4 linked regions of the Homo sapiens genome follow. The protein of the gene in region 3 purifies or fractionates together with the protein of the main gene of each other region. This does not show direct contact. Each region holds a gene or a part of one and is shown on either strand. Other genes may lie near its edges.

Evidence for each region. Proteins that work in one complex are often made in the same cells at the same time.
Region 1: the proteins of MTAP (region 3) and NAXD fractionate together in Homo sapiens (co-fractionation; one large-scale study listed by BioGRID). This does not show direct contact.
Region 2: the proteins of MTAP (region 3) and SNX12 fractionate together in Homo sapiens (co-fractionation; one large-scale study listed by BioGRID). This does not show direct contact.
Region 4: the proteins of MTAP (region 3) and TALDO1 fractionate together in Homo sapiens (co-fractionation; one large-scale study listed by BioGRID). This does not show direct contact.

Annotation. Positions count from the first base shown.
Region 1 is NC_000013.11:110,636,045-110,639,544, forward strand, and holds part of NAXD (ATP-dependent (S)-NAD(P)H-hydrate dehydratase), read left to right. Parts: intron 1-1,084; coding exon 1,085-1,205; intron 1,206-2,197; coding exon of another isoform or gene 2,198-2,333; coding exon 2,334-2,484; 3' UTR 2,485-3,500. UniProt on the Homo sapiens protein: Catalyzes the dehydration of the S-form of NAD(P)HX at the expense of ATP, which is converted to ADP.
Region 2 is NC_000023.11:71,058,747-71,062,040, reverse strand, and holds the end of SNX12 (sorting nexin-12), read left to right. Parts: intron 1-73; coding exon 74-198; intron 199-922; coding exon 923-1,025; 3' UTR 1,026-2,794; downstream 2,795-3,294. UniProt on the Homo sapiens protein: May be involved in several stages of intracellular trafficking.
Region 3 is NC_000009.12:21,812,636-21,816,135, forward strand, and holds part of MTAP (S-methyl-5'-thioadenosine phosphorylase), read left to right. Parts: intron 1-2,797; coding exon 2,798-2,884; intron 2,885-3,500. UniProt on the Homo sapiens protein: Catalyzes the reversible phosphorylation of S-methyl-5'-thioadenosine (MTA) to adenine and 5-methylthioribose-1-phosphate. Involved in the breakdown of MTA, a major by-product of polyamine biosynthesis.
Region 4 is NC_000011.10:757,464-760,963, forward strand, and holds part of TALDO1 (transaldolase), read left to right. Parts: intron 1-1,486; coding exon 1,487-1,594; intron 1,595-2,658; coding exon 2,659-2,790; intron 2,791-3,500. UniProt on the Homo sapiens protein: Catalyzes the rate-limiting step of the non-oxidative phase in the pentose phosphate pathway. Catalyzes the reversible conversion of sedheptulose-7-phosphate and D-glyceraldehyde 3-phosphate into erythrose-4-phosphate and beta-D-fructose 6-phosphate.

The DNA of each region.
Region 1 (3,500 bases), on a different chromosome or scaffold from region 3:
GGAATCTCAGGCACTGAGTGTGGCGAGTCTCAACTGGCCACTCCCACGGAGCCTGGGGAGGCTTCAGCAAGAGCCAAGTGAGAGCAGGGCAGAGGCCGGGCCCAGCGCCAGCGAGGCATCTGGGGAGCCGTGCCCTTGTTAGCGCTGAAAATGGAAGCCCCTCCATTCAGGCCTGGACAGATGATGGGCAGCGAATGTGCTCACCTGCTGAGCTGTGGGGCTGGACTAGGTACCAAAATCAGGGTAGAACACTGAGGCGTCTGTGGGCGGGTGTGTGCACATCCACACTTGTACACTCACATTCACATGCACATATGTGCACACGCATGCAATTCATACACATGCACAGTTGTGCTCACAGCCTCGCACGCCCTTGCACACTCGCACTTATACACATGCATGGTCATGCTCACAGCCTCGCACACGCCCTCGCACACTCATCCACACACAGCTGTGCACAAGGAACACAGAGCAGATGTTCTCAGAGGGACTCTGACACCTTTGAGATGAGGGTTTTTTAATCACTGGAAGGCTCTCTTGGGTCTAACAGGTTCAGAGAATGTAACACCTGGTTTTCAAAACATTTTTCAAAGAAATAGAGAATTCCCATACACAGGCATACGTGACGTTATGAGGCCGGTGGAGGCCTCGCTCGGTGTTGCCCTGTATGGTTGAGCTGTGGTTTAAGGTGAACTCTGGAGTGTGGGCTGCAGGTGAGGGCTCCGTCCCTGGGAGCTGGTGGGAGGAGCTGGAGGCTGGCGCCGCCCTGCTCAGAGCTGCCTGCTTGGGCTCGTCTGAGGCGGTTCCGAGCTGCAGGTGTCTCCACCAACCTGCTGTGCTACACAGCGGGGTCTGGGGCAGCCTCACCACTGCGTGTCTTGGTTTCCTCTTCTGTAAAACAGAGGCTGCCTCCAACCCTTGGAACAAACAGGGAAGAGCCGTAGCAGGCAGGATGTGAGTGGAGCCTCAGGCTGCTCCTGGAGGGTGTGGCTCTGCCTGCCGTGCGGCCTTCCACACCCGTGGCTACTGTCACATTCACACACATGGCCATGCTGACACCTGCTCTCACTTCTGCCCTGTGCAGTGCTTGTGTGCAGCCAGGAAGGCAGCAGCCGCAGGTGTGGAGGGCAAGGGGACCTCCTGTCGGGCTCCCTGGGCGTCCTGGTACACTGGGCGCTCCTTGCTGGACCACAGAAAACAAATGGGTAAGGCCACGTCTTCATTTATTCTACTTTGAAACCGTCTGATTTTTCTAAGCTGTTTCAGTAGCTCATGCGTTGAATAAGTAGCCCTGGAAACACTGACAATGAACTCTAGGCTTCACTGGAGAGATCTCGGCACAGACGAACCCTCTTGGCAGAAGCTTCCACCCCACACTTGGGCCTGGGCCTGTCCATCATTCACTGTGGATGGGGCCTGGGGCAGGGGTGGTCTTCAGAGCTCTCCAGAGAGTTCCGAGGTGCAACCAAGGCCCAGCAGCACGCTGTTCTGGGAAGTTGAGTGGTTTATTCTGTGTAACACAGAATACTAAGATAGAAAACAGACAGGGTCAAGGCTTACTTAGACACTTGTTCTTAAAGATGTGAATTTTCTTTAAGAGACAGCAGAATTCTAGGACCAGGGCCCTTGGCCCAGTTCTGTAGTCAGAGAACTTTATGAATGCAAGCAGTTCCCATACCTCTAAGCATCTCCATTTCTCTTCTGTGAGCCCATCAAGGTGGTGGCTGCAGGTGCTAGGTGTGGCAGACCCGGGCTTCTGGAGGGTGGGCAGGGCTGTCATCCAGTGGCCTCATGTGTCCTCATTGCCGGGATGGCAGAGTCTGGGACCATCCCCCAAACTAGGTGTGTCCACATGAATTTGAGAGCCGAGGAGGTAGGGGTGTGGGCAGGAGTCTTACTGTTCATTCTGCTGTGTTCACTCGAGTTGCCTCCACCCCTCCCCCAGGAGATGGAGCCCTGGTAGCAGGAATCCCCATTCTCAGACCTCAGATGCCCTCTGCACCTGGGCACTGAGAGCACAGTCAAACAGGGCTAAGCAGCTTGTGCCGCCTGGCTTTCCCCGGGAACACCTGGCCCACTGTGTGCCCTAGCCCTGGACCTGTCTCCGAGTACATAGACGTTTCCTGTGTGCCTCCTGCCAGGGAGTAGTGGAGGGTTAATGGTGGTTTTCGCTGTGATAAACCTGCTTTCTCCTCAGGGGCATATCAGACTTGAAATTGACAATTTGGGGTCCTGAGATTGAAACAGGAGTCAAAACCAGAGCCCAGGGTAGCTGCGGCCCCCGGACCACGACGCCCACTTCCCCACACCTCCTGCTGTCCCCCTCTCCGCAGGTCCAGCCCTCTCCTGGTGGCCGCGTTTGGCGCCTGCTCTCTCACCAGGCAGTGCAACCACCAAGCCTTCCAGAAGCACGGTCGCTCCACCACCACCTCCGACATGATCGCCGAGGTGGGGGCCGCCTTCAGCAAGCTCTTTGAAACCTGAGCCCGCGCAGACCAGAAGTAAACAGGCACCTTGGACGGGGGAGAGCGTGTGTGTGATGGGAAAATCCGGACCCACGCGTGTGCTGAAGGCGTACGGTGCTTGCCAGATTTTCAACTTGAGCATAAATTGGTTGCCATTGAGAATTTAAGAATCTGGAATATTGCAGCTTTTGGTTAAACTTAATGCATGGTTGGAGATGTTATGGCGACACTAAACAAAGTATTCCTGAACTTTCCTTAGCTCCTTGGTAGTAACTGGGAAGACAGAAATGAAGAAAATCACATGAGAATGAAGAATTCTTTAGCAGCTCAACAGAGTTTCTCGGCCTGCTCCCAGATCGGCGAAGTTTCTACTTGTTACTCTCTCTGCCGGCGCCCTTCGTTCCTCCTCTGCTTCCCTTCCCTAGTCTTTCCTCCGGCAGGGAGCTGGGCAGGGGTCCCCGGGTGTCTCCCTGAGTCCCGACTGCACTGACTGGGTCCATCAGAGGGCTGCTTCGTTCTCCAGCTCATCTTCTTTTAAAGTGGTGACTAGCTTGGTGGTATCTGGCTGCTGGTGTTTGGCTTATTGACATACTCCAGGGTAATCAATGATGACTTTGTTTGGAAACCCTTTTGGAGGCACCATGGGAACAGAAGGAAACATGAGTGACGCTGACCCTTGAGTGTGTGGGTGGGGAGCTCTGAGACGCCTCCTGTCCCACGCTCTCCGGTGTCCGTGTCTACACAGGGGTCCCCATGATACCCACCGGCCCCAGCAGGGCAGACCGGACCGGGGACGGGCACGGTGAAGGGCTGCAGCCTGGGGTCTGACGTGGCCCCTAGTGCTGTCTCAGGAGAAGGCTCTGGAGGACTTGAGGCATGCTGGGCCTGGTGCAGTGATGGCGCTAAGGAGACCCGGGGAAAGACAGTATCGTGGTCACGTATGCTTAGGAAGCAGCACAGCCGTGTCCTTAGGGATGTTCGCGTCCAGTAAAGACACTGGTAACTGCGGTTTCAGCCAACACTCTTCATGGCAGT
Region 2 (3,294 bases), on a different chromosome or scaffold from region 3:
TACACGGTGCTTTACCATCTCATTCCCACTCTGTCTCTCTCCCATGTGGCTGGAATTTTGTGTGTGCCTGCAGATTGTAGTACCACCACTGCCTGGGAAAGCCTTGAAGCGGCAGCTCCCTTTCCGAGGAGATGAAGGGATCTTTGAGGAGTCTTTCATCGAAGAAAGGAGGCAGGGCCTCGAGCAGTTTATTAACAAGTAAGCCAAGTTCCTGGGGGCTCCACTTGCTACTTTTGCCATCGTAGTCTTTCTATATGTTTTGTTTACCTCACCTTTTATTTTATTTTTATTTACTTATTTATTTATTTGAGACAGAGTCTCACTCTGTCACCTAGGCTGGAGTGCAATGGTGTGATCTCGGCTCACTGCAACCTCCGTCTCCTGGGTTCAAGTGATTCTCCTGCCTCAGCCTCCTGAGTAACAGGGATTACAGGCGCCGGCCACCATGCCCAGCTAATTTTCATGTTTTTAGTAGCGATGGGGTTTCACCATGTTGGCCAGACTGGTCTCGAACTCCTGACCTTAAGTGATCCACCTGCCTTGGCCTCCCAAAGTGTTGGGATTACAGGCGTGAGCCACCGCACCCAGCTCACCTTTTATAATGGGTACCATGATGTGGTGCCAATTGTGTGGTGGGCTGACTGGACAGTAAAACTCCATTCCTTTGAGTAGGATTCTGATCCTGTGTGTCAGGGCCTGAGAAAGCACTGCATGTTGGTTATATCTAGGGATTTCCCTGTCTTGCCCCTCTATCCCCCGTCCCCTTTACAATATTAGGGTTGAGGTGGTACCCTACTGCTGTCCTCTACTGGCTTGAACCTCAGGGCTGACCTTGCCCTTCTTCCCCTGTCCACATCCCCATCCCTCTGCTAATTCTCTCTGATTCTGAATACTACTGATAACCATCCTGGTTTCTTTATAGAATTGCTGGGCACCCACTGGCTCAGAATGAACGCTGCCTACACATGTTCCTGCAAGAGGAGGCAATTGACAGGAACTACGTCCCGGGGAAGGTGCGCCAGTAGGAGCCCCTCTCACCACCTGCCCTCTACTTTCCTGCTGAAATGACATTGGTTTTTACACTAAGCCTCTCTCTGTCTTTGATCTGAAGTTGGCTGCCCATCTCCTGGCCTGATAGACTGTCTGGCATTGTGCTCCCTGGTACCTGACTACACCATGTGGGCACTCTGCTAGGATCCTCTTCTCTGAGGAGAGGTGGGAACCCACAGGCAGATGCCCTTTGCTTGGGGTTGGGGTGGGTGGGTGGGGGGATTAGACTGGAAGGCAATTTCTTGGGCATTTACCCATGCCAGAAGGCTAACCTGGGGGGAGGGGGGCGCTTGTGCTGGTGAGGCACTTGGATACATACTGATGCTGCAAGTTCAGGGGATTTTTCTTACTCTTAGGTTTAACCAAGAACACTGAGCAGGGAAAAACCCTGCCTTTCCTAACTGCATGTATTTTTTCCTTTTTGGAAAGGTGGTAGAGACTCAGAAGCTTTCCTTGTTTTCTTCAGGCCTGCTCCCAGTTTTCTTAACAGTTTCTTTTGTTGCTTTCTCTCTCCCTTGTTGCTTTCCATGGCAGTAATCCTCCTAGAGTCCAAGCAGTCTGTTGTATGGAGCAGGGTGTGTGGGTTTTCTGGGCCCATCATTATGGCTGCTTCAGAGTCAGAAGAAAGCCATAGGGCAGTAGGGGAGCTCCTATTGCCTAGCCCCTCTCCCTTTGTGGCTCCCACTCTAGCTGCCTATTTTTGCTCATCAGCTGGTGAGTCAGTATGGGCCAGCAGTTCTCCCTCCCTAAGCCCTTGCTACTTTATGGGTTAGCTTTGCAGGTTTGGTGGCTTGAGGGGTGGGGGCAACTCACCACTGCCAGGTAACTCCCTGAAGGGTGGGAGTGGATTATCTTCTAGGCTCTTACCCGCGGTAGGGAAGGGCATCAACACTGTCTTCCTTCCATTCTCCTTTCCCCCATCCCATTTAGTGCTGCCACAGGGCAGAAGCACACAAACCAACCACACAGTCTCTGACTTCTCCTAAGCACTTTGAGTTGTTGAATGGGGCTCAGGGGCAAGAGTTTTTGCTGCCCTCCCCAGCGTGGTCACAGGGTTATTGAACTGCCTGCACTTGTTTCTCATGCAACTCCAGCATTTTCCCCAGAAGTTGAACTATGGATAGCAGCTTGGTATGGATTTCCTAAATCTTAACATTTGAAGCAGCTTCTTGAGGCTGGCAACTATCCTGGTTTCTGTCTTGGAGGGGGTGGTTTGTTTGCTGGGGCCCAACGTCTGTCCCAAGTGGTGGGGTGAGAGTAAGTTAACTTTGGTGCCAGGTGAGAGGTGGGGGCTCTTTGCTTAGACTCCCTATCATGGAAAGATTGGAGTTTTCTATGCAGGGCACTGTGGAAAAGGATTGCTGATTCTGACTGACCCTGATCAGAGAGATTAGGATTGTATTTTGACATAGGATTTGGAACCCATCTAAATGTTGAAGTTCCCTGAGACAGCTCTCCAGCTGCTGAGCCTGCGCCAGGGGCTAAGCAGCCCCTAATGAGAGGCTCTGCTCCCTTTCCCACCTCGCCAATGTTGTTGTTGCTGCCTTTTTGATTTGTATCCTCTGTTATAGACATTTTTTAAAAACGATTTCCTCTTTCATTGTGCACAAGTGCTGAGAGTCTGAGGCCCCATTTCTGCTGTGTATATATATCCTGACTCGGGGCTTTTATTCAGCAAACTGTTCATTCTTCTGTCAGACAATGTCATATTCAACTCTGTTCATATTAAACCACTGTGAAGCAAGCCTCTGTTTTCCTGCTTAAGTTGTAAATTTAGTATTCTTTAGTGTCTAGGATATGCTGGGTATTATGCAGAAATCATACAGTGTGGCCAGTGTCCTGAGGTAATGTTTTGCATTTAAATTTTTTTAGAAAGCAGAATCTTAACTTATCTTAATGATATTTACCTATCCTTTTTGCAACTCACAACTGACTTTGTCACAGAGGTAATGCATCTGCTTGCAGGAAGTAGCTGTAGGCTCAGTACCTGTTGTTTGAGTCAGATTTAGCAGATTTGGTTTTTAAGCTTGTGGGTTTGTGCTAATTTGGGCAGAATATATTTATTATATATGTGTGTGTGTATGTGTGTATGTGTGTGTCTGCATATGTAATACATGTACATAAACACACATGCATGTGTTCATCCTCTGACACACCCACACAACACCAACAAACATTTCTTCTATAGGCTTTTTATCTCAACTGACACTGTTTTTTTTCCCAAATAAATTTGACACAGGCAGA
Region 3 (3,500 bases):
AAAGAGTTTTCCTCCCCTCTGAGATGATTCACTCAGATACCTGGAGTCACTGTTTCTGTGCTTGTTCTGTGACCTTCGTCATGAACTTGACCTCTCTGAGCATGTTGTCTCATAACATGGAGACAAATAACTTTTCTAATAAGGTATAATGTTATGGAGGACTCCAGGGGATATTGGGAGAGGGCACATCATAGTGGTTAAGCCTGAAAGACCTAGATTTGTATCCCAGCTTTGCTCCTTATGATTGGCCCCTGGACGAGGTTTTTAATTTTTGTGCTTCTCTTTCTTCGTTTGTAAAACGGGTAACATTCTATAGGGCCCATCTTATGGTCCTGATGATGAAATAAGGTAAGGCCACTGAAGCACTTAGCACAGTGCCTTTAACATGTAAGTCCACAGACACAGTTACTTTATAACTAAGGCAGTACTGAGTTGACACAAACTTAGAGACTCAAAGGAATGTGGATAGAATTGGGCCATCAGTGCTTGGGTACTTCATCCCAGTTGTACTTTGCTGTGGAGCCAGCAGGTGGCGACATTGGCCACATCTTGGCCCTGCTGGCCTCCATCTTAGAGGTCCAGTTTCCTGGGATGGCGGGACTCAGTTGCTACACTTGTCCCTGTATCCCTCGCACAATGTAGGTTTCCGTAAACAACTGGACCTAGTAAAGTGACTGGATGGGCTTGCCTGCAGATCATTCCAGAGCAGTAGCCACTCTTGCTTTCATGTCCAGGGCTACTACATGTTCCTTGCTGAGGGCTGAGTTGCCAGCTACCTGGTGCAGAGTCATTATGCAGCCAGGTGGTGCAGACTGAAGCTTGGGGTTGCTGAGAGTGAGCTCAGGGGCTCTGAAATTCAGCGGGACACCTGGTTAGCATTTCTCAACAACTGCTACAATGCTGGGCAAGTTCACCTAAACTCAGAGGGTGGCTCCAAACAAAGCCCAACTCGATTTGTGTATTTGATCCCGAGCATCCAGTGTTGAATCCAGAATCTGAGATGCCCTGGCTCAGGGAACACCCAGAAACAGCCAGGCCAAAGTGGTGATAAGTTAAAAAGCTAGTAGCTGAATCCCCAGGGAGCTGGCTGAGAGTAATTTCAGAGTCAGCAGTTCATATCTGTGTCCCAGGTGAGGATATGGGCTGGATGGTTTCTTAGCCTCCTCATGACCTGTGGTGCTTCAGAGGTCCACGGAATGAAGGATAAGATGGAGAAGCCAGGCTAAGGAAGGATTGGGATTTCCTAAAACAGTATGAATTTTTGTTATTTTCTATTGAAGTGCCGTAATTTAAATGTATTGACTTAAGTGAACACTTCTGTTGATTTGAAAGCTATAATACTGGTTACTCTTTGTTCGTTGACATAAAAGTATGTTAACCTGCTGTGGTTTTAATAATATACCTCCACAAGATGGCGCCAACATCAAAGCCTGGCTTTGCCACTTAAGGAAATTGTGGTGGACAGTCACAAATTATGTAACCATGTCATGGGAAACAGGCAGAGTTCTTCAGTAAAAACCTCACTAAATTGTCCTTATTTTCTTGTTTGTTTTTTGTTGTTGTTGCTTTTTTTGTGTGTGTGTTTTGTTTTTTTCAGGAAACTGAGCCAGAAAGGTAACCATTTTTTTACGTGTTGATAGGACTCAACTTGTGTAACCTGACCTGAAAATTATTTAATGCAGATGTTCACTGAATTCTTAATCCTGGAATTTTTTTCTTGAGGCCTACTTTATTTTATTTAGTTACCCTTGTGACAATAGATTTAAAGCTTTTCATTGAAAAACAACAATGCTCAGGTCACTTCGCATTAATTAGGTTTCTAATAAAGTTAGCCTGGCACTGTTTACTCTCTAGGAGGTACCAGCCCAAGGAAATTTCCCTAATGATTTGTTACTTATTTTTAGTTTTAACAGTTTAGTTAATTTTTATTTATTTTTGTAATTGTTCTTGTTTGTCTTTCTTAATCATCAAATTAGATCAACTCTCAGAGGATAGTGCTAGGTTTCTTTAACTCAGACAAGGACTTTCAAGATAATCTCTGAAAAATGCAATACAATGCATGAACTTAAAAAAAACTTATAACTACCTTTTGAATTATTTATATTTGCATAAATGTATTTACTGAGTAATATACATGAGTATGCTATATGTATATTTACAACATGTAAATATGAATTTGCATACATATATGAATGATTGTTTTCATAAATGTATATGCGGGTAACTTTTCATGCAATTTCAGTCTCCTCTGTCTGCATTCTCTCCTAGCTCTGTGATTCTAATGGCGTGGGAAAGATAATCTCTCATTTCTTTATCAAATAGAACAGTGAGGAGAAATCAATACCAAATGGAATACCTAATATTTTATATCCCAGCAGTCTTCTGAACATTGTTTATTCTATAGTCCATTTGACAGAGAAACAAAATTGATCAGAAGGTACTTTCCACTACCATACTTGCCTACTTTTAGGTTTGATTTTCTACCTTGAGTTGGTTAAAATACCTCTCTATGCTGACTTGTAATTCAGACAGTCAGAAGTAAATGTGATGTAGTCCAAAAAGGTGCCCTACGTTTTGGTTACTTATAGAATATAGAAGGCCTTCAAATGTTTGTTGATTTTTATGGAAGGCTTTGAAATATTTGTTGATTGATGTTCAGTAATTTTCAGATTTCAAAAAAATAACTAGGGCTTGGCAGGAATGGAGAAGAGCATATGAATAAATGAATTTGCTTAGAATCTTATTTCTAATAAAAATTACCAAATACAATAATCTTCTCTGTCTTTTTCTCTCTTAGATTGGAATAATTGGTGGAACAGGCCTGGATGATCCAGAAATTTTAGAAGGAAGAACTGAAAAATATGTGGATACTCCATTTGGCAAGGTTAATATCCAACTTGTGGAGACATGTTTTTTAGTTTTTTCATTTCTCCTTGCTGGCTTGATTTTTGAATTAAAAAAAAAAAAAAGAATTGCTTTTGTTTTGGCAGCCCAGGGCTGTCTGCTCCCAGCAGAGAGGGCCAGAAGTTCTGCTGTTGGGTTCCATCAGCTGAGAAGGTGTCTGATGGGCGCCTCACACTTTGATGTTTTGAGAAAATGGCTACTTAGTATGTAAATCACTTCTCATTCTGTTGCTGGAAATCAGATACTCATTTCAGACCACAGACTCATTTCAGACTGTACTTTTCAAATCTACATTCAAATCTTCTAATTTGTGGCCAATAGGTCACACCACACTAATTAGGGGACAGGCTGATGACTAATAGGATGAATTATTGTTACGAAGCGGCATTTGAGTGGAAAGAATTGTTTTGGGGAATTAGAACATACCTGATGTTAGTTGAATGTGTAACTGAGCTAGAAATAAAATGCTCCTCCTTTTATAGGAGAGGTTGCTTGTTCTCCAAGCCCATGTCACTCAGCCTAGGCCGGGGTGAGGGTGTCTGCATTCTCCTAATTCCATATTGCTACGTCCTCTGGTCCATCTGTAAGATCTCTCT
Region 4 (3,500 bases), on a different chromosome or scaffold from region 3:
TGTATTTGTTTTTAGAGGCAGGGTTTCACCATGTTGCCCTAGCTGGTTTCGAACTCCTGAGCTTGAGCAGTCTGCCCACCTTGGCCTGCCAGGGTGCTGTGATTACAGGCGTGAGCCACTGCACCCAGTCTGGCCCAAGAATTCTAACCTCTGAGCGTCTAGCTGAAGATCTTCCTGTGTGTAGTGGGCTAACAAGGCTGCTCAGATTTTGGAACAGAATCATGGACTTCACTGGGTGTCTGTCCAATAACTTTGAAGAGATAGAAAATATAATATTTTGCAAGTGCCAAAAGATAGAGGGATGCAGTTTGGGATGATGAAAAGAGCTCTGGAGATGGATGGTGATGGTTGTACAGAACTGTGAATGTGCTGAATACATTTTAAAATGGTGGGCTGGGGGCAGTGGTGCACGCCTGTAACCCCAGTGCTTTGGTAGGCCAAGATGGGAGGATCCCTTCAGCCTAAGAGTTCGAGAACAGTCTAGGCAATAGGGCAAAACTCTGTCTCTACAAAAAAATATAAAAATTAGCTGGGCATGGGCCAGGCGTGGTGGCTCACGCCTGTAATCCCAGCACTTTGAGAGGCCAAGACAGGCGGATCACGAGGTCAGGAGATCGAGACCATCCTGGCTAACACGGTGAAACCCCGTCTCCACCAAAAATACAAAAAAATTAGCCGGGCACAGTGGCGGGCGCCTGTAGTCCCAGCTACTCAGGAGGTTGAGGCAGGAGAATGGCGTGAACCGCGGGGGGCAGAGCTGGCAGAGCCGAGATTGTGCCACTGCACTCCAGCCTGGGCGACAGAGTGACACTCCATCTCAACAAAACAAAAAAATTAGCCAGGTATAGAGGTGTGCAGCTGTAGTCCCAGCTACTTGGGAGGCTGAGGCAGGAGGATCACTTGAGCCCGGGAGGTCAAGGCTGTAATGAGCCATAATCACACTACTGTGCTTCCAGCCTTAGCTGGAGACCCTGTCTTGGGGGAAAAAAAAAAGGATAAGATGGGAAATTTTATGTTATATGTATTATTTGGCCACAATAAAAAAATGTTTTAAGAGAAAAAAAAAGATGGAGGGAAGGAAATTTGGCAAAGAAATAACAGAATTTATTTTGTAGAGTCTTGTGCACTTGAACCTCAGAAGCTTCTTTTTTTTTTTCTTGAGATGGAGTCTCGCTCTGTCGCTCAGGCTGGAGTGCAGTGGCACGATCTCTGCTCACTGCAAGCTCCACCTCCCAGGTTCACGTCATTCTCCTGCCTCAGCCTCCCTAGTAACTAGGACTACAGGCACCCGCCACCATGCCCAGCTAATTTTTTAATATTTTTAGTGGAGACGGGGTTTCACCGTGTTAGCCAGGATGGTCTTGATCTCCTGACCTCATGATCCGCCCACCTCGGCCTCCCAAAGTGCTGGGATTACAGGCGTGAGCCACCGCACCTGGCGAACCTCAGAAGCTTCTAACCTGCTTTTTTTCCCTTTGAATTTCAGGTCACAAGAGGACCAGATTAAAAATGCTATTGATAAACTTTTTGTGTTGTTTGGAGCAGAAATACTAAAGAAGATTCCGGGCCGAGTATCCACAGAAGTAGACGCAAGGTAAGGATGCTTGCTCCTGCACTGGATGGGCTGGTCAGGTGTCCACAGTTGCACACGTGGATGCCAACATGAGGTCAAGGGGCTGCTCCACCCATGGTCTTCATCCCAAGGGCCCAAGAGGAGGTTTATTTTGAGCTCTCCCACAGTTGGTAGTGATGACCAAGAGCTCCTTGTTTAGCAACTGATCTCTAGTGTTTTTTATTTTTATTTTTATTTATTTTTGAGATGGAGTCTCGCACTGTCACCCAGGCTGGAGTACAGTGGCGCAATCTCAGCTCACTGCAACCTCTGTCTCCCGGCTTGAAGCGTTTCTCTGCCTCAGCCTCCCAAGTAGCTGAGATTACAGGCACCTGCCACCATGCCCAGCTAATTTGTTGTATTTTTAATAGAGATGGGGTTTGACCATTTTGGCCAGGCTGGTCTTGAACTCCTGACGTCATGATCCACCTGCCTCGGCCTCCCAAAGTGCTGGGATCACAGGCATGAGCCACTGTGCCCGGCTGCTAGTGTTTTTTGTTTTGATTTGTTTTGTTTGTTTTTTGAGACAGAGTCTCGCTCTGTTGCCAGTGTAGAGTGCAGTGGTGTGATCTCAGCTCACTGCAACCTTCACCTCCCGGGTTCAAGCGATTCTCCTGCCTCAGCCTCCCAAGTAGCTGGGACTACAGACACCCGCCACCATACCCAGCTAATTTTTTTGTATTTTTAGTAGCGACAGGGTTTCACCATGTTGGCCAGGATGGTCTCGATCCCTTGACCTTGTGATCTTCCCGCCTCAGCCTCCCAAAGTGTTGGGATTACAGGCGTGAGCCACGGCACCTGGCCCAGTGTTTTTTAATACAAATTATAGCCTATGGATCCCACTGAGGACCTCTGTTTGTGAGACTGGGTGTGAGTTGCTGTCAGAGCCATTCTGCAAACCTCCAGTGAGGGGAAGGTTGAGGGCAGTGGTTGGTGCTCACGGTGGTGCTGCTCAAAACTGACAGGCAGACACCCGGCCTCCAGCTTGCTCTGCGTGGTGGGCAACCTGCGTGATCTGAGGGGATGGGTTCTTCTTGCTCCTACAGGCTCTCCTTTGATAAAGATGCGATGGTGGCCAGAGCCAGGCGGCTCATCGAGCTCTACAAGGAAGCTGGGATCAGCAAGGACCGAATTCTTATAAAGCTGTCATCAACCTGGGAAGGAATTCAGGCTGGAAAGTAAGTGGTCCCCCACAAGGAAGGAGCTCTCAGAGATTTTTCCTCTGTTGGAGCAGGGTCTACATGGCATCAGGCAAGTTTGACTCTCTCAGCCCTGGGGAATGCCAGACTGGGGAGCACAGCCCACAGCTTGGACTTGACCAGCTCATGTCAGCCTAGATCTGCCCTCTGCTCCAGAGCCAGCTCCCTCACTTGCTGGTGATCAGAAATGAGGGATTTCCCAGGAAGTACCATCCACCCACTCAGCAGAGAAGAAAAGCCACTAGTTAGCACCTGCAGATTCAGATTCTGTCCTTCCTCTGTCCTGATCAACACAAGCCTATGTTTACATGATTTTTAAAAAGTAAACTATTGTTATATAAAATATATGCTGGCTGGGCAAGATGGCTCATGCCTGTAATCCCAGCAATTTGGGAGGCTGAGATGGGAGGATCACTTGAGCCCAGGAGTTCCAGACCAGCCTGGGCAACAAAGTGAAACCTTGTCTCTACAAAAATATAAAGAAATTTTAGGCTGGGCACGGTGGCTCCCAGCACTTTGGGAGGCCGAGGCGTGGGGATCACGAGGTCAGGAGATCGAGACCATCCTGGCTAACACGGTGAAACCCCGACTCCACTAAAAAATATAAAAAATTAGCCGGGCATGGTGGCACACACCTGTAGTCCCATTTAGGAGGCTGAGGCAGGAGAATTGCTTGAACCCAGGAGGCG